Linked DNA regions of Homo sapiens: region 2 is linked to region 1. The links come from fine-mapping of genetic effects on gene expression. Tissue or cell type: thyroid. Region 1 holds a variant in brackets; the other region holds the start of a gene. All regions are shown on one strand. Distances are between the middles of the regions.

Region 1 (10,270 bases):
ATGCTTTCACTGATCCGTGGTTCAACCTGTCATTCTTGGCTTTTGGCAAAACTTCCAAGTACAATCCTCTCCCATCTTCCCTGAATGGATTCCTCTCTCTCCTCTATTGTTATTTTAGTGACTCTGTTTGCCAGTATGTATTTTGATTTACTAAGCTACCACAGATTCTGTTTGGAAGTAGGCTAGGCAGGGTATGCAATTACAGTGATGTTGCATCAGGCTCATCTAACTTACAAGTTATTTTATTTTTTAATTTTTAATTTTTATGGGTATATCAGGTATATATATATATTTATGGGTTCAATGAGAAACTTTGATATAGGCATGCAATGCCTAATAATCACATCAGGGTAAATGGCGTATCCAACACCTCAAGCATTTATCACAAGGTAATTTTAGGATTTCCTCCCCTCTGGATGGGCGATATGGCTCACTCCCAGCTCTTTGGGAAGCTGAGGCAGGAGGGTCCGTTGAGCTCAGGAGTTTGAGGCCAACCTAGGCAACATAGTGAGACCTCCTTCTCTACAAACAAACAAACAAACAAACAAAATTAGCTGAGCATGGTGGCACATGCCTGTGGTCCCAGCTACTCAGGAGGCTGAGGTGGGAGGATCACTTGGGCCTAGGAGGTCAAGGCTATAGTGAGCTGTGATTGTGCCACTGCCCTCCAGCCTGGGTGACAGAGCTAGACTCTGTCTTTAAAAAAAAAAAAAAAAGCTTCACAACAACAAACAAATCTATTAATATGTACTAAAATGTTAAAGTGTATTAGTCAGGATAGGCTGGATTTTGCTTCAGTAATAAACAACTCTTAAATATGCATGGCTTAAAATAGCAAAGGCTCACTTCTCACTCATGCTCCACATTCATTGTAGGTTTGTGGGGTCATCGTTCACACTGACCTGTCTTAGATACTCAAGGTTCACCACCTGGAATGCTGTGGGTCACTGCAGCAGGGGGAGGAGAAGATGAAGAATCTCTTAGCAGCACTAGAATGCTTCTGCCTGGTGGTAACACACCACTTCCCATTTCACAGGCCAAAGGAAGGGACATACAATCCTATTGTGTGCTCAGGTGGAAAATAACCAGAAAAACTGAGGAACAAGCATTAATGTTGACTACATAGAGGCTCAGTGTTTTAAAATAATAGAGGAAACCCTGCAGGCAAGAAGAAGTTTCAGTATTCTCCACTCTTGCCATTAATCACTAGGGATTTGCTGGCCATTTTAAAATCAGAATATGCCCAGACATTTGCATAGAAGAAGTTCCTTTTGTTTCTCCCTTCGGTCTATGTCAGAGGTCCTGAATTTCCAGTGTGCGTAAGTATTCTTGTTTGCCATTGTACAACGCTGTGTACACAATCCTAAAAGGCTTTCAGAGTGTTTTGGACATAAGCATTTTCCCTGTATGTGCTGAGTTTAGAACCTAATTTACTTAGGATGTGACTTTGCAGTACTTAATTGACACTAATGCCTGATTTTAGTTGTCCCAAAGTTTTATCACATTCTCCTCTTCTGTGCGTCACTTACAACCCTAGGAGCTAGTTTTTATCCAAAACTCTGAAAAACGTCGTCCACATACATTATCTTATTTAGTAACACTTGTAACCCAAAGGAGTTGGTTTATTAGTGGAACATTTCCATTCTACAGAGAGGGCAAGTGACTTGCTCAAGGACACAGCGCAGATATGTGGAAGTCGAATTTGTGAACATATTTCTGTCTGGCTTTAAATTCTGTGACTTTCTCATGATCCTAGGCAGGCTTCCAGCTGGGACAAGGAGGTCTTATTTGGAAAGGGAGTTTATAGGCCCTGAACTCTGCTCTGGAAATCTGTGAAAAGAACAGGAGGGAATGAGAGGCTCAGCCCCATAGACCCTTCTCCCTGCTGCCATCCACTCAGGGCATTGTGCTTAGTGAAAGCCCAGTTTCCGCAGGGATTACTTTGGGCACACAACATTCTAGGAGCTGGATGTCCAGGAATTCCTGTTAATTAGGCATTTATTCACGGAATAAATGTTTCCCTGAAGAGCTTTCTGCAGCTGGCCAATGTTCCGGTTTGGTCGTGGGCAGTGAGATGCCCATTAGTCTAGAATACACGACAGTGTGAGGCGCACGTTCACACGTGAATTGCCCGTGTAAGTAGTATAAGTATGTAACATGTATAAGTGTGTAAGCTGTGTAATATGTATGTGTAGGGTTGGTGCTTGTGTTAGCTGTTCTCTGTTTGTAGAGTCACTAGATAAAATACAGGATGCTCAATTTAATCTGAACTTCAGATGAGCATCAAATTATTTTTTAGTATAAATTTATCCATGCAGCATTTGGAACATAATTATACTAAAAACATGTTATTCATCTGAAATTCAAATGTAACTGGTCATCTTGTGTTTCGGTTTGGTAATCTGGCTGCTATGTCTACATGCATGTGTGTCAGCATAAATGGACTTGCTTGTTTATACCCCAGGGTGCACCTGAGTGTGTGTGTTTGTGCCCGTGTGTCTCTGGGTGGGTACGGGGGTCTGTGTGCATGTGTACCTCGCTGATAAGGAGTCAGTGGCTGGTTGGGAACCAACTGCTTCACCATCCATAGCTCATCTCCTGCCAGTCCAACCCTACTGGAGCAAGAGGGGTCAGGATGGGCCAGGCATGGTGACTAAAGCCTGTAATCCCAGCACTTTGGGAGGCCGAGGTGGGTGGATCACCTGAGATCGGGAGTTTGAGACCAGCCTGGCCAACATGGTGAAACCCCGTTTCTACTAATAATACAAAAATTAGCTGGGTGTGGTGGCAGGCACCTATAATCCTAGCTACTCAGGAGGCTGAGGCAGAAGAATCGCCTGAACCCAGGAGGCAGAGGTTGCAGTGAGCTGAGATTGCGCCATTGCTCTCCATCCTGGGTAACAAGAGCAAAATTCAGTCCCCAAAAGAGAGACAGAAAAAAAAAAGAGGGGTCAGGATGGGCCTTGAATACCTGGTCAGGGAGCTTGGACTTTCTCCTGAGGGTAGCCACGTAAGGCTCTGAGTAAGGGAGCAAACAGATCTAGATGTGTTCTACAGAAGTCCCTCTGGCTGCATTGCAGAGAAAGAGCTGGAGAAGGCAACACCAGAGGGAGGCTGAGGGAGCTGGATGGTGACCATAGTGAGGGAGGGTGAAGATCTGGGCTAAGGCTTTGGCAGTGGAGATGGAGGGAAAGGGTCTAATTGCAGGACTCGTTGAACAACCATGAAGGGGCTGAGGAAGTCTGAAGTTGCAGGTGGTGTTCATGTTTCCAGCCTGGGCACCTGGGCTGATGAACCATGGGCCCCTTGGTGTTTATCTTGCTCCCTTCCTCACCCTCAATGTCAGGCACAGTGCCTGGCATGTAGTGGATGCTCTGTGGGTGTTTATGGCATGAATACATGTACATGTTGATGAGAGAAGTGGGGAATACATCAGGAAGAGGAAGAGGAGAAGAAGGTAGAGGAGGGAGAGGGAGAGGAGGAAGCGAAGGAAGAGGAGAAGAAGGGGAGGGAGGAGGAGAGATACATCCTGACTGCATGTCAGCGCTGGGGACTGACAGTGTCTATTTCATCCCTGGCTATAGCTCCACATTAAAATAGTACCCAGCAGTGAGTAAATGACAGTGTAAACCAAATCCAAGCACAGTGCCTGGCATATCGTAAAAGCTCAATAAATGTGCATTCCAACCTTCTTTTCAGGGAGTAAAGATGCTTCCATTATTCCAAGGAATTTCCTTCCCTGAGCACAGTTTTTCTGTTTTAGGGAGGTAAATGTCCTTTTGCTTGGGACATTTTGTCTTTTCTGCCATTGAATTCCTGGGAAATTCAAATGCACTGGGCCTCAAAGCTTGCTGTGGATCATGGGACAGTTAGAGCCCTAGTGAACAACGGCCCGATCCCAGGGGATGGCGCTAGTCAGGGTCAACCCCCTCATGGCCTCTCCTTCCTTCTGACATAGCCTTGTCGTCTGTTGGGAACCCAGAGATTCTCCTGGGTCTGGCACATAGTATGTGCTGTGTAAATGTTTGCTGTGATTATTTTTGTTATTACTGTCCCTGGGCCTGGTGTTTCCTGAAATTGAATTATTTCTCTGACTCTAAAGCTTAGTTTATTTTATTTTATTCAAGCCTTTGGCTAACATCTCAATAGCTCAGGATTCCCAAAGCAGGGAAGACTAATTCTGACACGATCCCTTTCCGGCAATTTTTAAACACTCATGCCACAGAGGAAGGTAGGCTTCCTTCAAGAGCTCACTTAGTGTAGATAAACATTTGACCGGTGGATATGCAAACAGTCCAAAAATGCACCTTTTTCTAAGTGTAGGGTCTCAAAAAGGGTTTTCAGGATTCAATGCATATTCATTTAGTCATTGGCTTGTTCATCTAGTAGTTCCCACTGGAATATAAACCAGGGCAGGCTTTTTGCCTGCCTTGTGTGCTATTGGAAACCCAGTGGCCGAACAGGGCCCGACACTTCACAACTGCTCAATACATATTTGTTGAATGAATGAATGAATGAATGAGCATCTTATCTGTGCTGGGATGCCTGGCATTTGGATACCAGAATTGGACACAGTCCCTGCAGTCCGTGAGCTTGTGGTCCTGCAGAACATCCCCTGCACCCAACGTCTACGTGAAATACAGTGCAGATCAACCCAACTGCCTGTGAGATAGGGAAGGCACCTGCAGGGGTCACGGAGCCAGGCAGAAGGAGAAGCACTTCTGCTAGGAATACCAGAGAAGGCGTCTTAGACTAAGTGGCATTTTTTTCCCCAAAAGTCTTGAAATCACCTTTTATTTTTGTTATTCTTTGTAGAATATGTCAATGTTTTAATAAGGACTCCATATACACATACAAAAGATCAACTGTGCTAATTATGTTAGGCCAGGTTCATTGAATCCATTTTAATCTTCCAAATTTGTTTTTCTTTAAACCGTCAGTCTAATTATAATTTTAAAACTATGATGAATTTTTATTTCTTTTATTGATATGTAATGTTAAACACATTTATAAGGCACATGTAAGTGTTTTATGCATGGAATGTGTAATGGTCAAGTAAGGGTATTTGAGGTATCCGTCACCTTGAGTATTTATCATTTATTTCTATGTGTTGGTATCATTTCAAGTCCTCTCTTTTAGTTACTTTGAAAGATACAAAATATTGTTTGTTGTTAAGTATAGTCATCCTAGTCTGCTATCAAACATTAGAACTTATTTTTTCTATCTAACTGTATGTTTGTACGCATTAATCACCTTCTCTTCATTATCCTCCTCCCACCCACCTACCCACCCTTCCCAGTCTCTGGTATCAATTATTCTATTCTCTATGCCCATGAGATCAAGTTTTTAGCTCCCACGTATGAGTGAGAACACGCGGTATCTGTCTTTCTGTGCCTGGCATTTTCACTTAACATAATGACCTCCAGTTCCATCCCTGTTGCTGCGAATGACATCTCATTCATTTGTATGGCTGAAGAGTATTTTATTGTGTATCCATACCACATTTTCTTTATTCATCC[A/T]CCTATTGATGGACACTTAGGTTAATTTCATATCTTAGCTATTGTGAATAGTGCTGCAAGAAACATGGGAGTGCAGGTGTCCCTTTGGTACACTTGAATTCCTTTCTTTTGGATAAATACCCAGTAGTGGGATTGCTGGGTCAGGGGGTAGTTCTATTTATAATTTTCTGAGAAACCTCCATTTTGTTTGCCATAGTGGCTGTGCTAATTCACATTCCCAGCAACAGCGTGTTAAGAGTTCCAAGGTGGTATTTGCACCGCTTTGGTTTCAGCATCAAGGAGGAGTTGGTGGAAAGTCAACAGAAGGAGCCATGGTCTAGAGATGGGATATCTTGGTTGGCAGAGGAGTCCTATTTAGGCTCGCTGGGGATAAAGGTCACTGAAGCATATGTTCTGGATGGTAGGGCCCATGTCTGTCTGGTCCTTTGTTACATAGCATGGGATCTGGCACAGTGTGGGCTCTCAATGAGTTGTTGATTAAGAGAAGGAATGAATGACATGAGAGAAGAAAGAAAAGATGGGACCTAGACATCTTTCTGGAGGTTTTCTTGGCAACTATAATGGATTTCATTGCCTCCCCATGTCTGGAAGGAGCCTTAAGCCCCACCCCCATTACCTCCATAGCACTCCACCAAGCGATCATCTCGCTTTGGCTAGGATGCCTCTCAGTGATGGGGTTCTCAATCCCTCCCACACAACCTGTTCCTTTTTTATATAGATCTGATTATTAGAATAGCCGTCCTTCCACTCACCACAAGGAAGCAGAACGGCAGCAGGGAAAGAGCACTCAACCTGGAGTTAGAAGACCCGGGCTTGGCTCCTGAGCCTTCCACTGTCTCACCGTGTGGTTCTTGGGCAGGGGCAGGTGTAGCCAGTGATTATGAGTGTGGGCTTGGACATCTGGCAGATCTGCCTTAATTTCCTTATCTGTAAAATGGGAAGAGCAATAATGCCTACCTCATTAGGGCACTTGTGTGGATTAAATGAGATAATGCATGCAAAGTTCTTAGTGCCTTACCTGGCAAATTAGTGAGTGCTCAATGAAAGTTAGCTATGGTTTTTCATATTATCATCTTCTTCCTGGCTTTCAGTTTCTTCCTCTGTGTAATGGGAATAGGAAGCTCTGCCTTGGATGTCTCTAGGGCTTGGTGTGAGGAGCCAGACAGAGAATGGGCACGAAGGATCCACAGAGGTGAGGGATTCTGCATCATTCCCATCATATCGGCTTTTTCTGTAGGAGACTCCACTAGTGTGTGGTTTACCCCGAGATCACTCCTACAACACCGAGATCCTGAGGTTTTTCCCTCCCGTTGATGGTTAGGTTTCTGTTCCTTGACAGCCTGAATCATGGCCTCCAAGATCTTATTTACTTACTTATTTATTTTTATCAATAAATAAGTATTTATTTATCATCATTTATATGATGATCACGTTGGATTGTCACCCAGGCTGGAGTGCAGGGGTGTGATCATAGCTCACTGCAGCCTCAAACTCCTGGGCTCAAGCAATCCTTCTGCCTCAGCCTCTCTAGTAGCTGGGACTATAGGTGCATGCCACCATGCCTGCATAATTTTATTTTTAATTTTTTTTAGAGTCAAGGATCTTGCTATGGTGCCCAGGCTGGCCTTGAACTTCTGGCCTCAAGCAATCCACCCATCTCAGTCTCCCGAGTAGCCGGGATTACAGATCTACATTTAGAACAGGACTGCAAAGAAAGGAAAGGAGAAATGAAGAAAAGGAAGCAGACAAAGTTCTGGTTTTCAGTAGTTCCTTGGAGAGCTCAAGACTCAGACTCTGACCCTGTCTGCAAAGGGGGATCGTCCAGCCTTTGAAATAACCATTTCCTTCCCTCCTGGCCTTTTTCAGATCAGAGAGGTGGGAGGGGGCGTGGAGATTTAGTTCCCGGATGCACTGAACAGGAGGCTGTGAGCTTTCCTCTGATGTGCGACTCTTCTGCAGGGGCCCTGGCCCTGGGAGGCGGGGCTCTGGGCTGCGGCAGCTCCTCCTGTGGTCTACCTTGGCTTCACTGCAGGCCCAGCTGCTGCTGACCACGCGGGTTTCTTTTAAGAGGCTTGGCTGACCCTCAGCACAGCTGAAATGTTCTGAGACCTTGAATGTCAGAGATGGAAGCAACTTTATGATTCTCTGGGCCAGAGGTTCCCAGGCTGGGGTCCCTGGACTTGGGGTGCTCAGACTATTCCCGGTTCTTTCAAAAGCTGAAAAGAAACAGTATATAGCCCCTGTGTGAGGGCTCACGGGCTCGTAAAAGTATCCGGTGTCTTGACTTTTCTCTGAAATCAGCTCCAGCTGGTCCCTCTGTACCCTGGTGTTGCTGGTGACAGTGATAGCTTCCCACTGAACTTAGCTGCTAGAAGCAAGGTGAAGCCCTTCACACACCATCTCACTGATCTTCGATCCTGTAAGATGGGTACGTTTATGAGTCCTATTTTGCAGATGGAGACACTAAGTGCCAAAGGGGTTAAGCACTGTGCCCGAGTTCACACACCCAGCAGCCTGACTCCACAGCTCCAACCCCCAGCTACTAGCAAATAGTCCTCTGAAAGCTCAGTTATTTAGCTTTGAACACAGCAAAACTCATCATTATTCAGGGAAGATAATTTAGTAGAGAAAATGTTGAGATCTAAGTACTACACTTAGGAGGAATAATAAAAGGGTTGGTGGAATAGTTGAGGATATGCCATTTTTAATTTTTTATTGATTTTGTTTTGTTTTGTTTTGTTTTTCTTTGCTCTTGAGAGATGGCACATGCCACTTTGTTTTGTAAAACAAAGGCCTAGAGAAGTGAGGGTCCTGCCCAGTGTCATCTTGGGAACTGGTAGCCAGGACGAGAACTTGTTTCACTTTGCGTGGACTTCTTGGGTCTGACTCCAGAGGGCCTCCAGGGCAGCAGTGGCTTGTCCCGAGCTGATGGCATATGACTGGGGGTTCCCTGGAAGGGTCTCTGACATCCCCCTGTCCTGGCAGGCCACTCCCCAGCAAGGGTCAGGCCACACATCTTGACTAGCTTTCCACCAGTCCCCACCGACCTCCCACCAGCTGCACATTGCCTTGGCCTTGCCAGACCACAGAGCCGTTTAGAGCTGGCAGAGGCCAGCAGAATTCATCTTCAGCAAACTCTTCCTTCCAATCCCATCATTGTACATGTACTTTATGATTTGCAAAGTGCTTCCACATCTTCCACATCATTCAACTTGAGACCCAGGGCTGTTCTGGGAGCTGGGTGGGGGAGGGATAGTACCCCATTTTACAAAAGGAGAAAAGGAAGTTCTAAGAGGCAAAGTACCTTGTTCAAGGTCACACACTCAGATAAGAAATGTTGGAGTCAGAAGTTGGAGCTGGGTTGACCTTTTCCATTCCAGTGCCTGTTGCACCAAACAGCCTCCCTGTTTGGAATGAGGAATTGCAAGAAGCAGCGGTAAGTCACATGCCAAGCTGGGTTGTGCCAAGAACTTTATATTTAACTAACAGCATCGCCATTAACCATATCTTTTTTCCCATAGTGGACAAATACAGGTACCTAAATTAAAACAATTTTATCTGTGTCAACCAAGATTGCAGGCCTGCACTCTGAGAACTCATGATGTAATGAATAGACACAAATGTTCAAGGCAGAAGTGGTTTATATTCTAGACTCATAACTGTCTCACTGTGACCCTGAGAAAATGTTATGCTCTGGGCCCCTGTTTTCCATGTGTACAATGAAGATAATAATACCTAACACCTACCTTGCTTGTTATGAAAATGATTAGGGCCGTCATATACAAGTTTCTTCGTAAAATTTTAAGACGTGTTATACAACTATTACACATGACCATGAATCTTCGTAAACACCTAAGGCAAGGGAAATTCACATACACACACACACACACACACACACACACACACACACACATAAACACATTTATATGTAATTAATGATGAATAAGTACATCCTAAGTAGTTTACATGGCTCATTCTATTAATTGGAACAAGAGCCTTGTGGAAGCTAGTACCATGATCATTCCCATTTTATAGATGAGGAAACTGAAACCCAGAGATCTTAAGTAACAGGTAGCAAATGGCAGAAGCAGGATATGAAATCTGGATAACAGGTAAGCTCTTTAACAGCCAAGGTGCATCAGAATCACCTGAAGGGCTGGTTAAAATATGAAATGCTGAGTCCCACCCCGTGATTCTGATTCAATAGGTTTGGTGTGGGGCCTGAAAATTGGATGCTGATACTGCCGGATCAGGGACCACACTTTGAGAGCCACTATGTTAAGCTTTGTGCCCAAGACCACATACCCAGCAGTCTGACTCCACAGCTCCAACCCTCAACTACTAGCAAATAAATAGTCTTTTAAAAGCTCAGTTGTATAGCTTTGGATACTGCAAAACTCATCATGATTCAGGGAAGGGAATTTGGTAGAGAAAATGTTGGGGTCTCAGTACTACACGTAGGAGGAATAATAAAAGGGTCTCACTGCTTGTAATCCCAGCACTTTGGGAGGCCGAGGCGGGCTGATCACGAGGTCAGGAGATCGAGACCATCCTGGCCAACATGGTGAAACCCTGTCTCTACTAAAATACAAAAAATGAGCCTGGTGTGATGGTGCATGCCTATAGTCCCAGCTACTCGGGAGGCCGAGGCAAGGGAATCGCTTGAACCCAGGAGGCAGAGGTTGCAGTAAGCTGAGATCGCGCCACTGCACTCCAGCCTGGCAACAGAGCAAGGCTGTGTCTCAAAGAAA
Region 2 (10,270 bases), 29 kb after region 1:
CTCTGCAAGCATTGTGTGACCATCTTCTGAGATGCCTTATAAATTACTTTCTTGGCACAGTGCATCTGGAAGAGGAAGGGAGAAAAATACATCTACTGGCTTCCATTGGCTGAAATTTTGCCCCACAGGGTGTTATTTGCACTGTACTTCCAGGTTGCTCATTGCAGGCACTAAGGATAGTGCTGAGGATGTCATGCCTTAGCATCAACAGGGAAGCCCTGGGGTGGAAGTGAAAGGTGATCAATGTGGACATGAGGCCAGGGGCTGTGAGTTGTATCTGCCTGAAGTTGGTGAGAGTCCAGGTAGAGTTGGTCTCCACAAAGGGGACTGCTGTTAGAACAAGTGGCCAGAGACCCTGGAGACGGGTGAGACTAAAAGAATTTCAAGCAGCTATCTTAATTTGGATTCCCGCAGCAAAAGACTCAGAGGCAAGGATTCCACTGCCAGCAGTTCACTTGGTCAGTTTTCTTAAGAAGCACTGGAAGGGGAGTGGGGAAATGAGGTGGCCAATAAAGAGTGAGTGCACAATACCCCTGTGGGAAACCGGAGCTCAGTCCTGTGGAAACTCTGGATAGAAGTATAGAATGTGTGCCTGCCTAGGTGTTCCCACCAGCTGGGTAAGGGGGCTGAGATTCTCATCCACCAGCTCCTGACCATCACTGATTGAGAGCTGCTTGGGGAAGGGGTTGCTCCATTAATTTCCCAACACTTCTGGTCTTCTGTGCTTGTGGGCAGAGCAGGCTCCAGGGGCCAGAGAAAGCGCTCAGGTGAAGGGATGCAGGTGCTGGCAGTTGGAAGACAGCCACCCTGCACATAAATGATCAAGATGGAGGGGATCTGGACAGGATGTTGCAGTGGCACATAAAAGGTGTCTGATACATTCTCCCTCCTTTTTCTTTTCCTCTTGGATTGTCAGATTTTCAAATCCATCATTTTCTCTTATGTTGAACCAATGACTCTTGTCTCAGCCTGTGGCCCCTCTTTGCATATCCAAACACATCAAGATGCTCAGCAGAACAAATGAGTCCTCCTTGGAAGGTAGTTGTGGGCTTAAACAGTCATTATTTTCTCTTGGTTATCCCAAAGGCAGCTATCTCTTTAGTTATTCTAGTAAATTCTATTCTAGTTAGCTAGTTAAATCTATTGCACTTTTTCTGCACATTAAATCAGATGATATGCAAGCTCTAACTACCTCCTGTAGACGTTCTCATCACAACTCCACAAGGGAGGCATTGTACCCATGTAGTGAATAAACTGAGGTCTAGAATGACATGCACTATATTCTTGGTAACTTCTTCAGAAACCAAAGTTTTAGATGATTTCCACAGATTTTTGTGCCCCTTCCAGCTGCTTGAGACAGTATGGAGAATGCTTTTGGATATTGAGTTATCAGGGACATTGGGTAGATTATGGGAAAATGGAACAGCCTATTAATTTAGTCCAGTTCTGTAAGAGTTGGGACATAAGATCCCCAGTCTTCACACATCCCAATCTCACAGATTACACTGAACGGTGGTAAACAATTTAGATCAGCTTGGGTATGACACGAAGCTTCCTCTTGGCTATTTCTACAACTTAACATTGAATGGAAGGAAATCACTTAAGCCCTAAAAACACTGTCTGGCAGGAGGTAAAATGTCTTGCTTGGCTTCCTGCCCCATCCCTCCCACACCCACAGCTGGGACCATTTGGCCCCCACTTCAGCTCCCAGGCCTGAGACCCTCCCTGTTCTTCATCTGCCTGAGTTCAGGGACAAGCTGCAAACTGAGAGCCCTTCTTGAATATGAACATGGTCTGGCTTCCCAGGAGAAATAGGTGCAAAATCAACAACCTTAACACGAGTCTATTTCCAGTCATTTGTAGATGAGAAGTGTGCTTTGGGAAACTTCATTTTTAGATTCCAGTGAATTGGGTATCATCAGTTACAGAGAACCAACAAAATATGAAATGTGCACATAGGACTTCCCTGCAAGAGTAGAAAGGAATCTGTTGCCTTATGCATATGTATCTTGGACTGATAAATTGGATCACAATCAAGTCTTCACCCTTCATGTTATATATGTAACTGAGGAGGCCAGGTTTGTTTCATAATGGCACCTTCATTTTTATTTTTTTCAATGTACACACTTTATTTGTATATTAAACAAGTAGAAATATGTTTTTCCCCATCTTTCTTTAAACATGTTCTTCTCCCCATATATCTTCTGTTTACCCATTTTTAACAGGAACATGAGCATTCAACCTATTCCATTTTTTCTTATATGCAAAGGCAGAGTGCAACTGTGATAGGGGCAATTGATTCTTAGCTTTGGTTTTGGGGACAATATGGGGTGGTGGGAACTACGGCAAACTGGACAGTACTGCCTTAGCTGAAGGCAGCAGCCCCTATTCAATGCCAATCAATTGTTGGCACAGAGAATGCAGGCCTTATGTCGCCAGGTTTTCCAAAATTTCAAAAAGAATCCAGAAGTCTCAATTTTACTGTGCAATTCTCTAATTATCAAATATTGCTAGCCAATTTAATTTGGAGGTTGACACCCAGCAGACCAGATAAAACATATCTATGGGCAAAATTGAAGGCTGGGCATGGTGGCTTATGCCTTTAATCCCAGCACTTTAGAAGGCTGAGATGGGTGGATCAACTTGAGGTCAGGAGTTTGAGACCAGCCTGGCCAACATGGTGAAACCCCGTCTCTACTAAAAATACAAAAATTAGCCGAGTGTGGTGATGGGCGCCTATAGTCCCAGCTACTTGGAAGGCTGAAGAGGAGAATCACTTGAACCCGGGAGGCGGAAGTTGCAGTGAGCCACCATTGCACTCCATCCTGGGTGACAGAGCGGCACTCCATCCTGGGTGACAGAGCGACACTCCATCTCAAACAAAAACAAAAACCAAAATCAAAAATGAAACAAAATTGAGCCTATGGCTGCCAGTTCACAATCTCTGGTTTTAAAACTGTCAAACAGAACCCTAGATCTACTATGTAGCCATAACTGATGTGGTTTTTCTAAGCAGTATAGAAATATAGTTCTAAGAAAGTCAATTATATTCCTAGTTAATGTGGTACTTTACAAACAATAGAGAAATATAGAATTATGAAAGCAAATTCCCTATGGTTAGTGAATCAAAATAAAATAAGGTTAGGCCCATCACAGAGTGGCTGCAAGTGGGAGAGAATTTACATTCACAGGGAATGTGAACAGATTAGGAAAGAGGCCTCAAGTGGACAATTTTGTCGGGATGCAGTTCGCCTTATGTGTTAGCTCCACATGAGGCCAACCTGGTTCTCGAGCTGCTTTGGCTACTGGAGCCTCAATCCCTTAAGAGGTTGATCTAGGGTCCCCCCTCTGTCTTGCCAGTTGTCCCCCTCCACAGGCCGCAGCCCCGATGAGAATATCCACAACCTCTAATAATAGAAGCCAAAATCCAATGGACAGAGAGCACTGTGGTGTACCAGTAGGTGGTCCCATCAAGGGACTCACAGCCACCATTCAATTCAAGGTAGTTGTGTCCATTATCCAGGTGGAGAAATAAAAAATCAGACCAAGGGCAAGATTTGCCCAACTTCACCCTGCAGCCAGGGCCAGCATTGGACTGGAACCCAGACTCCTGATCTCCAGGCCAACCATCCCTCCTCTGAGCCCTCACCGCCCAGGCTGGCATGAACCCTTTCATATCCGAGTGCTCTGTGTCTCCACTGCGATTTTGCTCTTGAGGGTGGAGAGTGAGTCTAATCTTCTTGCTTACTGGCAGGCAGCATGGCTGAGTGGGGAGGAGCATGGGTGTTGCATCTGCCATTCATTAGCCTTGGAATGTTTTGAACCTCAGCTTTCTTATCTATGAAATGGGGATCATGACAGTATCACCTTTCCATGGCTGTTGTGGGTATTAAATGAGATAACACAGCTAAAGCATTTAGCAGAGGGCTTGGGACATAATCCACACCAAGTAAGCATTAGTTGCTTATATCCATTCCCATGCCATCTCCTCTGCAAGGCTAACTCACTTGGCAAGAGGTGACCCATCCTCTAGAGTGGAACTGAATCAAACACAGGAACTGACCACAGAGCCACGGCCCACTGTGGCTACTTGGTGCTTCAGGAAGAGAGGTTTCTAGTGTTTACCTGGCTTCAGAGCTGTCCAGGTCTCAGCCAACTTCAGCGGTGCCTCTTCTCACTCCAAGATCTCACACTATGTGCCGGGTGGTAATCTTAATAAAAAGCGACCATTGAGGGTTTACCCAGTGCCCTGCGATAAGCTCTGCACAGATGGGTTAGTCTGCCCTGAACCGCCTCACTCCCACTGAGGGCTTTCGGAGGCAGAGCCTGGTTCATGACCCCCACATCTCATCACAGGGCCTGGTGTGATGCCTCACCCAAGACTGTGCTCCTTCATTCATCCAGCGTTTATTGGCATCTCCTACTACCTGAGCTGTTTTAGGCAGGGAACAAAGCACAGATAAGCCCTCCTGGAGCTTACATTCTGATGAAGGGGGCAGGCAAGGTATACATAGGGAGGAAAGCCCTGGAATCCAGTACATTAAAAACTTTTATTAGGATTATCTCTGCTGCATTTAGTTGTATGTATCCCTTATGGCCCCCAGGCAGGTCCACTCCTGGGCATTCAAGTCGGTCCATGTGTCAGGCGTGCAGGGTGGGTCACAGCATCTAGGAGCTCAGTGCAGCTTGGGACTTTGGGACATACGCTCCACCTCTCTGAGCCTCAGTCTCCTTGTCCATCATATAAGGAAATCACTGATTCCAGCCTTCCTGGGCTGTGGAGAGGATTCCCTCAGCGGCTGTGAAAGAGTGCTTTCTTGCGGGTCAGCCCCGACAGGACAGACTTAAGGGCGGGAGGGAGCCCATCCCGCTTGCCCCAACGAACGCGGGCGCGGGGCTTTCCTCGCAGGTTACATAAGGCAGCCGCGGGTGGAGGCAGCAGAGGCGAGCGCACGTCCGTCGAGGGGGAAAGGGGCGTGGGGAGGCGGCCGGGGCGGCCGGTATCCCCCGGGCGTGAGTGCGCAGCGCGCGGGGGAGCGCAGGGCGCGGCGGAGTCGGGTTTCAGAGCGCGGGTGACTCGGGGCGCGGGCCGGGAGCCGGGATTCTGCCCGCCGCCGCCGCTGCCGAGCGCCGCCTTTGTTCCCTGCAGGAAGGGCGAGCGCGGCGGCCAGCGCTCAGCGACCCTTCGTCCTCCGCTAAGCTCCAACGCTCTGCTCGACTAGCCGCGCGCCTTCCGGGGCTCCGCAGACCCGCGAGATGGCACCAAGGTAAGACCCGCTTCTCTGCTTCCTCGCGTCCCGGGCCCCTCCAATACTCTTGCCCGCCTCACCTTTTCTCCCTCGGGCACATCTTGCAGGAGGAACAACGGGCAGTGCTGGTGTCTGCTGATGCTGCTCTCGGTCTCCACGCCCCTCCCTGCTGTCACCCAGACCCGCGGTGCGACAGGTAAGCAACCCGGTCGGAGGGTGGCACCGGCTGCCTCCGCGCCCGTGGGGGAAGTCGGTTTTGGCGGCGGACGCGGCTGCGATGCGTGCCTCATTCCTGGACATAAAAGGGAGTCTTGCCACTCAGTGCGCACTGGCGGTCCCGCGGGCGGCTACCTCCTGGCAGTGCAGGGGTTATAGCTGTGAATGGGATCCCTGGGCAGCTGGGGCGGTTGGAGCGTTGTCTGGGCACCCGAGATGTCTGAGCTGGGTGCGGAGCCTCCAATCTTAGGCAGAGAGGGACTTCAGAAACAGCGCCAGCGCCAGCGCCAACAGCCTCAGCGCACCCAGCGCCAGCAGCTTAGGTTGTGCGTGCTGGCTGGCTTCTGGTAAGGGCAGGTCTGGTGCCTCTCCGCACACAGGTGCGAAGCATGAACACCGGGAGGGACATCTGGGGCTTTTGCTGCTCAAGAAATAACGGAACTGAATTGCTCGGTTGCTTAACCCAGCTCTGAGTTACCTAAGCGGTCACGTCTATCATGGGCAGTGGCTCCACCGGTGGTGGAAAGAGCTGTGGCCTGGAAGCCAGAGATCTGATCCCTTCCGTTCCCCGGGCCTCAGTTTCTCCAGCAGAACTCAGGCGGTTGGCTGAATAGTAAGATATAAGTTAAAGTAGACCTAAGTTAAAATGGGCCTCGGTTAAGGTCAGACTGCCTGGGTTTGAACTGTGGCTGGCTGAGTGATCTTGGGCAATGGATTTCATCGCTCTGTGCCTCAGTTTCCCCATCTGAAAAAGGCGATTAATTAGACCATTTTACCTTCCTAGAAATGTTGTGAATATTAGAGAAATTAGAAATAATGTGCTTCCCATGATTCCAGTATATACTAGGCACAAAATAAGTGATAGAAATTACTGCTTGATTCTTGCAGTAACTATGTGTTGGAAAGCAATGCAAGTATTTTTATTTTTATTTTAGATTCAGGGAGTGGTCATGTGTGGTTTTTTACAAGGGTATATTGCACGGTGCTGAGGTTTGGGCTTCTATTAATCCCATCGCAATGCAGGTATTTTTATAACATTGAGGTTGAGAGAAGCTTAGAAAGTGGCCAGTCCAAAAGCCAGGACTTGAATCCAGGTCTGTAGGCTCTTGCCCTTGCTCAGCTCTTTCTCCATGCAGTTTTGCAGAAGAGCCATGCTTTCTATAGCTTCTGACCCCCTCCCCTTTGAATTTGGGGGATTAGTACACATCTTCAATTGAATAAGGGAACAGAAAGTCTAGGAAACAACCTCTAGTCGGCCCAAAGGAAACGGGATTGAGAAGGTGGCCTTGGTTAACTCTTTGTTTGCCTGAAGAAGCCCAAGACAGCCCATTGTCTCCTGGGCAACAAGACCCAAATCCGATGATAGCTTTTCCTGCCAGAGTGTCCAGCCTGGCATTTATTGCAGATCAAAGGGCAGCTGGAGTATAGTTTTAGCTTCTCAGCCCCATGGCTCATGTCAGAAAGTTGCAATTTTGCATATGATATAGGGCCCTGCCAACTCAGTGGCAGAGGCCAACTTTGGGTTCCATGGTCTTTTGTGAACTTTGCTGCAACTTCCAGTTTCCCAAAAGGAAGATGGATCTGGGGATAGGAACTTTGGTGTTTCTTTCTCCTCCTGTGTGTGTCTCTGGGATCCCTCAGTGTCAGGGCTGTTGTTTCTAACACAAAGGAAGCCCTATTCCCATTTATAATGTAAAAAGGGAGGGCCAGCAAACCTTCAGGAGCTGAGAACGGTCTAAGGAGGGCCATTTGCAACTGATGGGTTTTCAGTGCCCCTTTGGGGATGTGAAACGATTCCTAAAAATGTAAACTATCCTCCTGCAAACTGCATTTGTAATGCAATTTAATATCCCTAATACTTATAAAACACTTTGTATATCCAGGTGGAGGTGTGAACATGTTCATATTTCATTCATCCAATCCTTACAACCACTCCAGGAGGTGAGGACTGAGAACAGTTACTATCTCTGTTTTTCAGATGAAGAAACAGAGGTCCAAAGTCACAAGACTTCTAAGTGGCTGGGGTGGGATTTGAACCAGACAGTCTGACTCCAGAGTCCTTGCTCTTAACCATCCTAGTGTGTAGTTAGAAGAGCTTCACGGATGGAGAAGGCTTTAGGGGTTCCATGGTCTCCAATGAGCCCCACAATCTGAATGTCACAATTGTAACATGAGTCCATTGCATGGCATTGTGCAGTCTTCAAAGCACAATGTCACCTTCACCACGTCCCTGGAATCACCACCCAGCAGTGCTGAGAAGTAAATTGGGCTCTGTCTTACAGAGGGGATGTGACTTCCTCAAGGCCGCATGACTGTAACTGGGTAGATCCATAATAGCCCTCTCACGTCTGTGAACTTCTGGGCTGGTGCTGTTCCTTCCATAGGACCACTGCCCAACTGGCTATAAAAAACAATTGCCAAGACTTCATAGCACTATGAACCAGCAGTGTTTTAAGTGCCCTGCCATGAATGAGCTCAGTCAATCATCACAACAACCCCATGTCTTATCCCCTTTTACAGATGAGGAAACTGAGGCACAGTCTTTTGCCCAAGGGCATGTAGCCTTCAGTAATATAAGCACAATTTGAGCCCAGAGGGTCTGACTCCAGAATCTGTACTTGTAACCACTATGCTGTATGCTTAAGTGGGGTGGCTTCTGAAAGCATGTTTGTAAGTGGGCTGTTATGAGCGGAAATACATGTTCCCAACGATTTGGCAGTTTCTTAAAATGTTAAATATATACTTACCCTACAATCTAGAACTTCCACTCCTAAGTATCTACTTAAGGGAAAGGAAAGCATATGGCCACCCAAAAACTCATATGTATGTTCATAGCAGCATTATTTATAATGACCAAAACTGGAAATAAAGTTAAATTCACCATTAGCTGGTGAATAGATAAACAAATGAGGTGTATCCATTTAATGGAATACTACTCAGCAATAAAAAGGAATGAAGTATTGATCAATGCTACAACAACATGGATAAACCTTAATACCATTAAGCTAAGTAAAAGAAGCCAGACATTAAAAAGCAATACATTGTAAGAGTCCCTATATATGAGATTTCTGTAAAGGCAGAACCACAGAGACAGAAAACAGAAGCAGAGATTGACTGCAAAGGGGCATGAGGAAACTTTTTGGGGAGTGTTCTAAAACTGGATTGTGGTGGTAGTTGTGCAACTCTATAAATTTACTAAAATAATCTAACTATACATTTAAAATGGGTGAATTTTATGGAATGTAAGCTATGCCTCAATAAAGCTGCTTCTTAAATAAAAGAATGTATTTTCCCAGAGCATCTAGGCCCCAGATCTGGTGGGGCTTCAAGGTGGGGTTCCTAGCCAGCCTGGTACAGAGCTGGCACACAGCTCACAACTTAAAAGCTGCTGGCCTCTTAGGGCATTGATTCTCTCAGAAAATGGGTCCAGAGTTCTGCCTGCACCTCCAGGTCTCTGGATCGACTCTCCCTACTATCCCTGAATGCCATTGTGGGCCCAGGACAGGGCTCCTCAGGTAGGGGTAGAACACATGCATATGGGTTTTTTGCAGGTAGTTGATCTGTTAAAAAGTGGGTCTTTGTAAACTTCCTGATATCCTGCACGCCCTAAAACAGCACAAGTTCAGGTATTGGAAAACCTGGGTTCCACTCACTGACTTCCTCCATGAACTTAGATGAGTTGCTTTTCCCACTCTGAGCCTGTTTTCCCATCTACGAAGTGGAGAGGCAAGAGTCACTCATCTCTGTAGTCCTAATTTAAAATGTTGGGAAACAAAACAAAATAATATTTTTCTAGTTTGAGGTTTGATTATTTCACATAGTTTAGTTCAACAAACCCATTCTGTGCTGGCCCTCATGCTGGCTGGGTACAGAAAGGATTTGGGCACAGAGCTGCCCCAAAGGGGTCATAGTTCACAGGAAGAAAGAAAGGGCCACAGACAACTGTAATGCCATTTTTCCTGAAGTCTTCTCATCTACCATGCAGAATGTCCTGTGTGCAGCCAATCCCATCCTTCTACACCATCCTGTTTAAAGACACACTTGTCGGCCGGGCGCGGTGGCTCACACCTGTAATCCCAGCACTTTGGGAGGCTGGGGCGGGCAGATCATTAGGTCAGGAGATTGAGACCATCCTAGCTAACACGGTGAAACCCTGTCTCTACTAAAAATACAAAAAATTAGCCAGGCATGGTGGCGGGCGCCTGTAGTCCCAGCTACTTGGGAGGCTGAGGCAGGAGAATAGCTTGAACCTGGGAGGCGGAGGTTGCAGTGAGCCAAGATCGCGCCACTGCACTCCAGCCTGGCAACAGAGGGAGACTCTGTCTCAAAAAAAAAAAAAAAAAAAAAGAGACACTTGTCAGTGGGTGTCACCCACATGGCCTCTTGTACCTCCAATGGTCAGGGTTGAGCTGGAGGACAACACCAATCCTTCCTTTTCCTGGTAAAGTTTCAGGGTCATTGGAATACCCAATATTTTAGAAGATAAGGGGGCTATTGTCCAGGTAGGGATGGTGGTGTCACAAGTAATTTGCTCTTGCTAATAAAGTGTTGATGATTGCAAATTATTTGCTTATGTTTAAACTGTTTTATTGTGAAATACAACATCCATTCAGAAAAGTGCATGCTAAAGGTACAGTACAATCTTGTATCACAGAGCAAACATGTAATCCAGATGAAGATATAGGATAATCCCCAGAAGGTCTCCTAAACCCCTTTGCTGTGGTTTTATTTTCCCTTCTTTCTCTCTGAGGTAACCATTACCTTGACATTAACAGTCATCCCTTTCTTGCTTTTTAAAAATAGCT

What was found.
Region 2: it holds the start of COL15A1, and the variant in region 1 is fine-mapped to the expression of COL15A1 in thyroid (GTEx, PIP 0.95).

What each region holds. Positions count from the first base shown.
Region 1 is chr9:98,909,336-98,919,605 of GRCh38, forward strand. ADIPINT (adipocyte associated pyruvate carboxylase interacting lncRNA) reads left to right here and starts at 1,869. Exons shown (of 2, transcript NR_176918.1): 1 at 1,869-2,135. The variant A/T (reference allele first, on the strand shown) is at 5,520.
Region 2 is chr9:98,938,806-98,949,075 of GRCh38, forward strand. COL15A1 (collagen type XV alpha 1 chain) reads left to right here and starts at 5,102. Exons shown (of 42, transcript NM_001855.5): 1 at 5,102-5,267; 2 at 5,357-5,445. The coding sequence starts at 5,257. It overlaps COL15A1-AS1 (COL15A1 antisense RNA 1), which reads right to left and starts at 5,847. Exons shown (of 1, transcript NR_198999.1): 1 at 2,080-5,847.